Homo sapiens: one gene and its partner. The protein of the gene in region 1 interacts with the protein of each later gene in a biochemical or structural test. Each region holds a gene or a part of one and is shown in the gene's direction. Other genes may lie near its edges. The genes, in order: GOT1 and PC.

Region 1 (3,551 bases):
ATCATGGCTTACTGTAGCCTCAACCTCCCAGGCCCAAGCAATCCACCCACCTCAGCCTTCGTAGTACCTGGGACCACAGGTGTGTGCCACCATGCCCGGCTAATTTTTAAGATTTTTTTGTAGAGACAGGGTCTCCTTATGATGCCCAGGCTGGTCGTCAACTCCTGGGCTCAAGCAATCCTCCCTCCTCAGCCTCCCAAAGTACTTGGATTACAGGCATGAGCCACTGTGCCTGGCCAGCATGCAAATTTATTAACTTGCACAGGTGTCTTACAAAATAGAACTCAAATAAATGGCCAGATGATTGATGCTTTTATACCATCTTGGGGTTATAGAAAGAATGGGAGCTTGGAGCTTGCCAGAACAGATTATGGCAGGCAGAGAAGAGAAGGCCTGGTTAGCAAAGGTGGTCTTGTTATATTATGTAGATAAGACAGGTAGCAGCCCTCGGAGAAAATAGCGGTAAAGGTCTATTTCTTTTAGACCTTTAAAGGCATCACACTCTCAGTTAATCTCCCCTAGATCTGGACAAGGGAGGGCCTCAGAGAAAGCCTAGCTGCAGCCATGCAGATTTTCTCTACAGATACAGATCTCTCCCACAAAAGACAGCTTTGCAGGGCTACTTCTGTATGTAGGCCCTCTCAACAGCCATCTCAAAATATGTCAAAGTATATTTTGGGGTGAACTATTTTGGTTTCCTTCAAGGAGCACTGAGTCCAGGGTCCAGATTTTTCACTTCCTTAGAGAGGCACTGTAGCATCACGGGGGCAGTGTACAGCCCAGACTTGAAATCCTGCCTGAAAATCCCACATCCACCATTGACCAGCTGTGCAATCTCGGAAGGCCATTTAATGTCTTTATGGCCTATCTGTAAAATGGGCATGATAAAGTTATTATCAGGATGAACTAAGATGCAGTGCTTAGAACACTGCCTGGCACATAGTGTTTACTCCTCTGATTATGATGATTCTATTATTATTCCATTTCCTCAGGTTGGTGGTATCTTAAAGGTACTAATTACTTAAGCAATAATTCACTAAAATTCTTTTTTTTTTTGAGACAGAGTCTCACTCTGTCACCCAGGCTGGAGTGCAGTGGTGTGATCTCGGCTCACTGCAACTTCCTCCTCTTGGGTTTCAAGCAATTCTCCTGCCTCAGCCTCCTGAGTAGCTGGGACCATAGGCACATGCCACCACGCCTGGCTAATTTTTGTATTTTTAGTAGAGACTGGGTCTCAGCATGTTGGCCAGGCTGGTCTCAAACTTCTGACCTCAGGTAATCCACCAGCCTCAGCCTCCTGAAGTGCTGGGATCACAGGCGTGAACCACTGTGCCCAGCCAAATTCACTAAAATTCTATCAATGGATTTGCCAAATAGCAAAACTGCTTTAGAGACTGCTGTATAAAGGAAGTACAGGTAGTCTCTTCTTACCCACATGTGATGCATTTCTGAAAACATGGAAAAACTACTGCATCTGAGAGAAAGCTGAGAAATGAACAGAAGTCTGATGGTGCCAGGTCAGAGAGGTCTGTGTCATTTCTCAGCTCATTGGTTAATTCACACAGGATTGATCAGGTACCTCATGCATGGGGCCTTACCCAATGTATTGTAAAAATGAAATGTCAAAGGGAGGCTGCCGCGGGTACTCAATGCAAGTCCAGGTTAGGGAAGAACTAAAGGAAGCACTTCATAGCCAGCATTTCATATCGCTGTCCGTCTGATGGTTGTTTTTAGGTGATAGGGGTGTCCTGGTGGATATAATGTATAAGGCTTGGTTGGAAGGCAATCTCAGATTAAAATTCCCATCAGTAGTAGCCATATTGAATTTTCTGGGGATTCAAAGGTGAACTAGTAAGAGTACTTTCCAGAATCTAGTGAGCATATTTTTCTGTTTGTCAGTTGGACAAAATAGCGCCTTTTGTTTTGCTTCTCTCTGTTAAGGGGAAAGAAGTAAAGCTGTAATTGTCATATAATTGCTGAGCCTCCACTGCTTTAAGGATCCCCTCTGCTCTGATTATGTCTTCTTTTGGTTTTCAACAGCCAAGCAGGTTGAGTATCTGGTCAATGAAAAGCACATCTACCTGCTGCCAAGTGGTCGAATCAACGTGAGTGGCTTAACCACCAAAAATCTAGATTACGTGGCCACCTCCATCCATGAAGCAGTCACCAAAATCCAGTGAAGAAACACCACCCGTCCAGTACCACCAAAGTAGTTCTCTGTCATGTGTGTTCCCTGCCTGCACAAACCTACATGTACATACCATGGATTAGAGACACTTGCAGGACTGAAAGGCTGCTCTGGTGAGGCAGCCTCTGTTTAAACCGGCCCCACATGAAGAGAACATCCCTTGAGACGAATTTGGAGACTGGGATTAGAGCCTTTGGAGGTCAAAGCAAATTAAGATTTTTATTTAAGAATAAAAGAGTACTTTGATCATGAGACATAGGTATCTTGTCCCTCTCACTAAAAAGGAGTGTTGTGTGTGGCGGCCACGTGCTTCTATGTGGTGTTTGACTCTGTACAAATTCTAGTCCCAAAGATCAAGTTGTCTGAAGGAGCCAAAGTGTGAATGTGGGTGTCGGCTGCGGCATTAAATTCATCATCTCAACCCAGAGTGTCTGGTCTCCCTGCTCTTTCTGCATGGTTGTGTCCCTAGTCCTAAGCTTTGGTTCTTTAGGGTGACTGTGGTAAGAAGGATATTTAATCATGACATGCACGGACACGTACATATTTAACTGAAACAAGTTTTACCAAACAGTATTTACTCGTGATGTGCGTAGTGCATTCTGATATTTTTGAGCCATTCTATTGTGTTCTACTTCACCTAAAAAAATAAAATAAAAATGTTGATCAAGACATGGAGTTGATTTTATGACCACTAATGGGTTGTGACCCACAGTTTAAAATGAATGCTTTAGAGGGTTTTACTAGTGGCTAAAGGAAAAACTACAATGTGTTCTTACAGTATAGCTTCCTTCAGTGAACTCACCATATAACTCCCTGGTGATTTTGCGGGCTTGTCATTTGGAGGCCAGCTGTCTTATGTTACTTAAGAAACTGGACTTCTTGGACTGTGAGAGGAGATGACATCACTCAGGTTGATTATAGAACATCAGCCCGTTCCCTGCTGTCAGAGTCCCTCCTGGTTTATTGAAACAGAACCACAAAAACATACATCACAATTTCCAGAGTCCAAGGGCCGCTCCAAATGGCCATTTTGTAGAATTTGGTGGGGTTTGATGTTACTTAACACAAGAGGTCTATTAATTGGAGTTTTTAAGTATTTAAAGTTAATTCTTGTGATTTTAATAGGATCTGCCACTTTCTAGGACTCATTTGGGTTGTTAGAAAATCCTGCAGTCCTGAGGGATGACTGGGGCCTCAGAAGTCATCAAGTCCTGCCTCTCCGCCAGTGAAATAGTCTCTCCATATTGTCTCTGACTCATCCATTTCAACTGGTGGGGTGGTAGTGGTGATGGATTCTTTAAATACCTGGTGAGGCATCCCCTTCTGCTGGTGGGGCCTCTTAATTAAAAAAAAAGAGGCTCAT
Region 2 (7,296 bases), on another chromosome or scaffold:
GCTGTGCCCTGCTCTTAGGGAAGGGGCTTTGTTCACTACAGTTGCTCAGTATCTGCTTTTTGAATTAATTAGGCTGTCATCCAAAGTTTCCTCAGTTTACCCCAATGTACCCTCATGTGTCATAACGCCTTCTGTCTTTCTACTGAAGCCCGCTGCAGCCTGGCTGACTCGGTTCCCTGTGCCAGTCCTCACCTCCAAGATCTCCCCTAGAAGGTTGTCCCTGGTAGCCCACAGTAGGTCCCCCAGGCCCTTTTCCCTTTTTTGTCCTGCTCCTTGCTTTCACCCGGTCTCACTTCCAGTGCCCCAGGCACTGTGATAGGTACCTGTCCTCCCACCACCACTCATGGGGGCTCTGGGACCAGTGGCAGGGCAGGACCTCAGATTCACTACTCTTATCCCAAGCCACAGTTCCCTGTGTCCCTCTTCCCTCTGTCCTCTCAGTACCTAATAGTGCCAGGAACAAGTAGGTGCCTAATGAGTGTTTTGGGTGAATTAGTTGAAAAGGGGTCAAACTGGGAACCAGTGAGGAGAGAAGGGTGCAAGATGGGGAATACGGAAAGGAGTTACTTTTGGAGGTGGCAGGGATGGCCAGCACCAAGGTCAGTATGGCAGTAAATCTGGCAATCCACATTTCTCACTGGCACCTTCTGCATGGGCTGGAGGCCTCGTTCAGGTCAACGTTTTCTGTGTTTTTTTTTTTTTGGAGACGGAGTCTTGTTTTGTTGCCCAGGCTGCAGTACAGTGGCACCATCTTGGCTCACTGCAGCCTCTGCCTCCCGGATTCAAGTGATTCTCCTGCCTCAGCCTCCTGAGTAGCTGGGATTACAGGCACCAACCCTTTGCCTGGCTAATTTTTGTATCTTTAGTAGAGATGGGGTTTCACTATGTTGGGCAGGCTGGTCTCGAACTCCTGACTTCAGGTGATCACCTGCCTTGGCCTCCCAAAGTGCTGGGATTACAGGCGTGAGCCACTGCACCCGGCCTCTGGTCAACATTTTCATTGAGGATGAGCATGGCCTTCTCTTTGGCTGCCTCCCAATATCGTCCTGCCCCCATCTGAATGGGCCCCGTTTCTTGTATCCTGAAAGTTCCTGCTTTGGGGCAGGTTTCTCACCCAGAGGCCTCCTTCACAGCAGCAGGGCATTTTGCCTGCTCACTCTGAAACCTCACCTGGGCCTGACTGACCGTGCCTTCCTCTCTTTCTCTTAGCTGCCTTCTAGTCTCACCTGTGGACACTTTGCCAAAGGAGTCGGGCCTGACGGTGGAAGATGGGAAATGGCCAAAAGAATAAACCATTTCCTCTTACTTACCGAATGAAAAGCTTGCTTCATCTTGGCGTTCAAGACTCTCTAATATGATTCCACCTGTTGGGCTCTTTCTTCCATTTGCCTCCGCAGGTACCCTCTTCTGTGTCAGCCCCCATAGTGAGATTAGTCACTGTTACCCCAAACTCACTTCTCACGGTCCCCCCTCTGCTCTTGTTCTTGTTGACTTTGTTTTCTGCAGGGCCTTGCTTCTTATCTTGTCCTGTCAAAATTAAATTATTCTTCGAGACACAGGACTTTATTAAGGCTTGCCAAATCTATTCAGTTGGACTGGGCTCTCTTTTCATAACGATGATGATAAGTAATGATTTATTGTTATTAATAATAAAAGTCAACTACTGTGTGGTGGTGACGGCCTTGCTAAGCCCCTTACATACACATAATGTGATTATCACAACAATCCTATTACGAAGGTCCTATTAGATCCATCTCTTACAAATGACGGACTCTCATAGGTGAAACTCAGAGAGGTGAAATAACGCCCAGAGTAACACAGCCAGGCAGGCTAGGTGGCTCACTGCTGGAGTCCCTCTCACGTGCCATCCCATTTTTGCTTCTTTTAACCAGCCCCTAACAACTTGCTTTTTGGCACTTTGTGGGCAGGGCCTGAGTGTACATACAGTTCCTTGTGCAAGGCATGTGCTCAATAAATATTTTATTGACTTGAGTGCCCCAGACATTGAATTTCAGCCTTGACGTTATCTGTCAAGGCAGCTGGTTTTCTCTGAACAGGGATTTGAGCTTGCTGGCCTGTTTTTCCATTTTGCTGTTCATTGACTAGTGGCTAGGGTAGGTGTGGCTTTTTCGGAAATAAGCAGTCAATAAAACTCCGAAAAGTGATTACACAATACCAACTGTGGGCTCCCATGGGCATAAACACGAGGTGGGCTCTTACTTATGGCAGAGAGGGGTCTCTGCAGGAAAGGATTTGAGGAAATAGCCAGGAAATAGAGTACACATCTCAGGTCACGTAAGACAGCTCCTTATTAGTTTCAAGTTGTGGAGTGAGAGAAGAACCAGACTCCCAGTATTCAGAGGGAGCTCCTGAAGGATTAGAGACAGCTCTGCGGAGATGCAGAGAAAGCGGGCCTGAGGCTGGACGGAGTGGGCAGGAAGAGAAAGCACTTCAGATAAAACGAACTGTTTCTAGAACTTCTTGTTCATGTGTAGTGGGTGGCAGAAAAGGGTTTTACTTAAGCGCTTCCCACCTAGCCTGTCGGTTAACGTCCCAGTGTGTCCTCTGTGCCAGGCATGGTGCCACTGCTGTGCGTGTGCTGCCTCATTGGGTATTCCCTAGTACGCTGTGAGATGGGCATTGTTATTATTCCCATTTTACAGATGAGGAAACAGACTTTGAGTGATTACAGAGCGGCTGTCAGAGTAACAAGAGGTGCAGTCCAGGCAGTGGGACAGCACAGCTGGCGCTTCCAGCTCTGTACCCTCCTGGTGCCCTCAGTGGAAGCAAAGAAACAGTTCTTGGCCGGGTGCGGTGGCTCACACCTGTAATCCCAGCACTTTGGGAGGCCGAGGTGGGTGGATCACCTGAGGTCGGGAGTTCGAGACCAGCCTGACCAACATGGAGAAACCCCCATCTCTACTAAAAATACCAAATTAGCTGGGCGTGGTGGCACATGCCTGTAATCCCAACTACCTCAGGAGGCTGAGGCAGGAGAATCGCTTGAATCCGGGAAGCAGAGGTTGCAGTGAGCCGGGATTGCGCCATTGCACTCCAGCCCGGGTAACAAGACTGAAAAAGTTCTCTGGGTTCTAAAATCGGTGTTCTTGCCACTCCTGTTTTCTCTGGGAAGTTCCTGGAGCAATGAGGGTAATGCTGTTTTTTCTTTTGCTTTAGATAGTGTCTGCCTTCTGGAGAGCTGACCAAACACTAAGGGTAAGTCCTGTGCCTGAATCCAGGCTGGCGGGATGCATGGGGGTCTTCACCAGGAGCAGCTGTGGATGCCAGCAGTTTGGCATGTCAGGTCTTAAGCTCAATCAATAAAAAAAGGCTGCGCTCTGATTTGTGGATAATATCCGTTTAAGCAGTCTTGTCTGTTTCCAGTTGCTCCTGATTTTTACAGGAAAGTGACATCTGGCTCCCTGCTGGCCCCATTTGGCAGCTGGCCAGCCTCAGCAGAAGGCCCTGGTTCTGGAAGGGTATGGTCAGCTTGGGAAGCTGGGCAGGAAGAATCCCTGGGGCTGGGCCGTCTCTGAGAAGACCCCTTGAGTCAGCATGGAGAGCAGGCAGCTGTGGTGTGAGGTGGTTCTGCCAGCTGGTTGTAAAGTCACTTGACACGGGTTTCCAGAGGGTGACGCTCAACCTTTGCCAGTCACGGTAACAACGGGGAAAAAGGGACCTGCCCTTCTTCCCCTGCACATTTTACAGGCATGTGCCACCACACCTGGCTAAGTTTTTTTTTTTCTTTTTTTTTTTTGAGACGGAGTCTTGCTCTGTTGCCAGGCTGGAGTGCAGTGGCGCAAGCTCGGCTTACTGCAACCTCTGCCTCCTGGGTTCAAGCAATTCTCCTGCCTCAGCCTCCCGAGTAGCTGGGACTACAGGTGTGTGCTGCCATGCCCAGCTAATTTTTGTATTTTTAGTAGAGACGGGGTTTTACCATGTTGGCCAGGATGGTCTCAATCTCTTGATCTTGTGATCCACCCACCTCAGCCCCTCAAAGTGCTGGGATTACAGGCATGAACCACTGTGCCCGGCCTAATTTTTGTATTTTTAGTAGAGATGGGATTTTACCATGTTGGTCAGGCTGGTCTCGAACTCCTGACCTCAGGTGATCCGCCCTCTTCGGCCTCCCCAGATGCTGGGATTACAGGTGTGAGCCAGCGCGTCCGGCCTCTACTGCTTTTACAGTTCCCCCAACATGGATTTCCATGGTGGCAGGTGCCTGGGAGATTCAGTGGCCTCCCCTCAGCCTAAATTCCACAGCCCTCCCGCCGGTCCCCTGCTAGTCCAGTCCCCTCTCCCCCTGCTGGTCTGCAGGAGCAGCCGAGCCAGGGAACCAGGTGCTCTCCCAGCATTTGTGACAACAATAATGCTCTTCCCTTCAGGCCCGCTGTGGCCTTGGGGACTTTGTGGCTCAGGGACAACTTTCTCCAGAGCTCATATCCAGTGCTGAGTGGGGATTCCTTGGTATAGGAGTTTTTCTCGGTTTTCCACCCATTATGTGGGGGTTTTCCTCTGACGACCCTTCATGACGCAGGAGCTGGTTTCCTGTGTGAGATTTCCCGCAGTCCTCCCTTGGAGCTAGGTCTTGGGCCAGCAGGTGCCGTCTGCGTGCTACCATTGAGTAAGGGCAATGGGCTCATGGTGGGAATGGCCGTAACGTGGAAGAACTCCACCCTCCACGAGTTTCACCCCCTTGTTCTCTCTCTGCTTGCTCTGTCCTCTTATTCTTGGCTGCTAGAGTTGGATGTTATTTCTCTTACTTGCATCCCTACAATGAGAGGTGGGCATGTTGGGGAAGGTTCCCCCCAAACCACTTGTCTTATGGAACTGAAGAAACTGAAGCCTAGAGAAGGCTGCTTAGCAGAATCCAAGATGCTGATCCCATTGTTTATTCTTCTTTTAAAATTGCCATATTTTATTGATGTCTTCCCTTAGATCCATCAATAGAGAGGGAAAATCAGTCACCAAGAAGGGACCTCTTCTTCCAGGTTATGTAATTTGTCAAAGCTTGTTTGGCTCCTCAGTTCCCAAGGCACTGCTGACTTGAGCTTTGCCTAGGGACTAAGGCTCTGTAGTCTAAGCTTGTCACCCTCCCCTCCTCTTCAGCTTTCTCCTGGGGGGACATGGATGTGGCCCTTTGTTGTGTTGTTAAGTGTTATGCCTGAAGGCGTTACCCCAGGTACTCCCAGCACTACCTCGGGTTTCCTACTCTTGTGTTACCTCCTTGTCCTGATATGCCTCGAGGCCAGAGAAAGAGGTGGGGCCGGGAGGGCACGGGACAGCTGGGAGTACATTTCCACTGCCTGTGTGTGGAAGGGCCTGACTGCTTCTGTGGCAGCTCCTTTCCTGATGACATCCACCATGACATCACAACGAGGCTTTGGGAAAATTCCACGACCTGGCCATGCTGAGTCATACTTAGTCTCTGGGGATGTGTGTCACCTTTCTCTTGTCTGTCACTGAGTGCTGCAGTTACTATGAAGTGACACATGCTGCCCATTTATTACGTTTGCACATCACTTTATGCTGCTTTGGAGCCTCTTCTCATGTACATGCTGTGTATCAATGTGAAATGTATTAATATTAAATCATTAATAATAAGTATATTATTTATTCTGGAAAATATTTGTCTCTTGCAATGTGTGAGGAACCAGAGGTTCAGAGAGACTAGAGACTAAGCGACTTGGTGAGTTTCGGGTGACTGGTGCGTGGCATGTCTGAGGGAGGTTTGGATGCCACACCCACTCCTACCCCTGGATTTTTATGTAATGCAAAGATTATTCAGAAATTACTTTGGTCGAAAACAATTGATTTTCAATTTGTTAAAATTATGAATTCAGAAACCTAGTTATTTTAAGGGCCAGTCTTTTAAGTTTAGCTTATAAGTGTAGCCTATAAATCTTTCTGATCTATTTACGATTCTAGGACATTTTAACAGTCACTTTCAGGGGGCTTTTATTTATTTATTTTTTTTGCGATGGAGTCTCGCTCTGTCGCGATCTCGGCTCACTGCAACCTCCGCCTCCTGGTTCAAGCGATTCTTCTGCCTCAGCCTCCTGAGTAGCTGGGATTACAGGCGCCCGCCACCATGCTGGCTAATTTGTATTTTTAGTAGAGGCGGGGTTTCTTCATGTTGGTCAGGCTGGTCTCGAACTCCTGACTCAAGTGATCTGCCCGCCTCGGCCTCCCAAAGTGCTGGGATTACAGGCGTGAGCCGCCGCCCCGGCCTTAGGGGGCTTTTTGATTAATGCTTGGTCCCATTTGCAAATTTGATGAAACTTCTGAAATGTTTCAATTGAACTTATAAATCATATTCAACTTCAGTTAACTATTTTAATAATTCTTCTGGCCGGGCATGGTGGGTGGCTCACGCCTGTAATCCTAGCACTTTGGGAGGCCAAGGCGGGCAGATCACGAGGTCAAGAGATTGAGACCATCCTGGCCAACATGGTGAAACCCTGTCGCTACTAAAAATACAAAAATTAGCTGGGTGTGGTGGTCACGCGCCTGTAATCCCAGCTACTTGGGAGGCTGAGGCAGGAGAATCGCTTGAACCCGGGAGGCGGAGGTTGCAGTGAGCTGAGATTATGCCACTGCACTCCAGCCTGGCGACACAGCAAGACTCCATCTCAAAAAAATAATAATAATAATAAATAATAATAATAATTCTTCCATTTTTCTGATTAAAAAAACCCTCTAATACCTAAATGACTCTTGTAAATCTAATAAATGAAGCTGAATATTACACTTTTCTTAAACTTTCCTATACCGTTTTATGTTTTGTTTGTTTATTTTTGTTTATTTTGAGACGGTCTGATTCTGTCACTCAGGCTGGAGTACAGTGGCACAGTCTCAGCTCACTGCAACCTCTACCTCCTAGGCTCAGGTGATCTTCCCTTTTCAGACTCCTGAGTAGCTGGGACTACAGGTTCAAGCCACCACACCCGGCTAATTTTTGTACTTTTTGTGGAGACGGGGTTTCACCACATTGCCCAGGCTCATCTCGAACTCCTGAGCTCAAGCAATCAGCCCGCCTTGGCCTCCCAAAGTGCTGGGATTACAGGCGTGATACATTTTAGTTTTTACAATAGCTTTATTGGAGTATTACTGAGATATAATAAGTTGCACATATTTAAAGTATACAGTTTAGTAAGTTTTAACATATGTGTACCCTTGTGAAACCATCACTGCAGTCCAGAGAGTGAACACATTCATCACCTTTGGAATTCCTCCCTCTGCCTCCTCACTCTTCAGGAAACCATGGAACTGCTTTCTGTTACTATAGGTTAGTTT

What was found.
Region 2: the proteins of GOT1 (region 1) and PC form a complex in vitro, tested with the Homo sapiens proteins (one study listed by BioGRID).

Annotation. Positions count from the first base shown.
Region 1 is NC_000010.11:99,396,176-99,399,726, reverse strand, and holds the end of GOT1 (aspartate aminotransferase, cytoplasmic), read left to right. Parts: intron 1-2,040; coding exon 2,041-2,180; 3' UTR 2,181-2,857; downstream 2,858-3,551. UniProt on the Homo sapiens protein: Biosynthesis of L-glutamate from L-aspartate or L-cysteine. Important regulator of levels of glutamate, the major excitatory neurotransmitter of the vertebrate central nervous system. Acts as a scavenger of glutamate in brain neuroprotection.
Region 2 is NC_000011.10:66,948,350-66,955,645, reverse strand, and holds part of PC (pyruvate carboxylase, mitochondrial precursor), read left to right. Parts: intron 1-1,209; 5' UTR 1,210-1,397; intron 1,398-3,177; 5' UTR 3,178-3,216; intron 3,217-7,296. UniProt on the Homo sapiens protein: Pyruvate carboxylase catalyzes a 2-step reaction, involving the ATP-dependent carboxylation of the covalently attached biotin in the first step and the transfer of the carboxyl group to pyruvate in the second.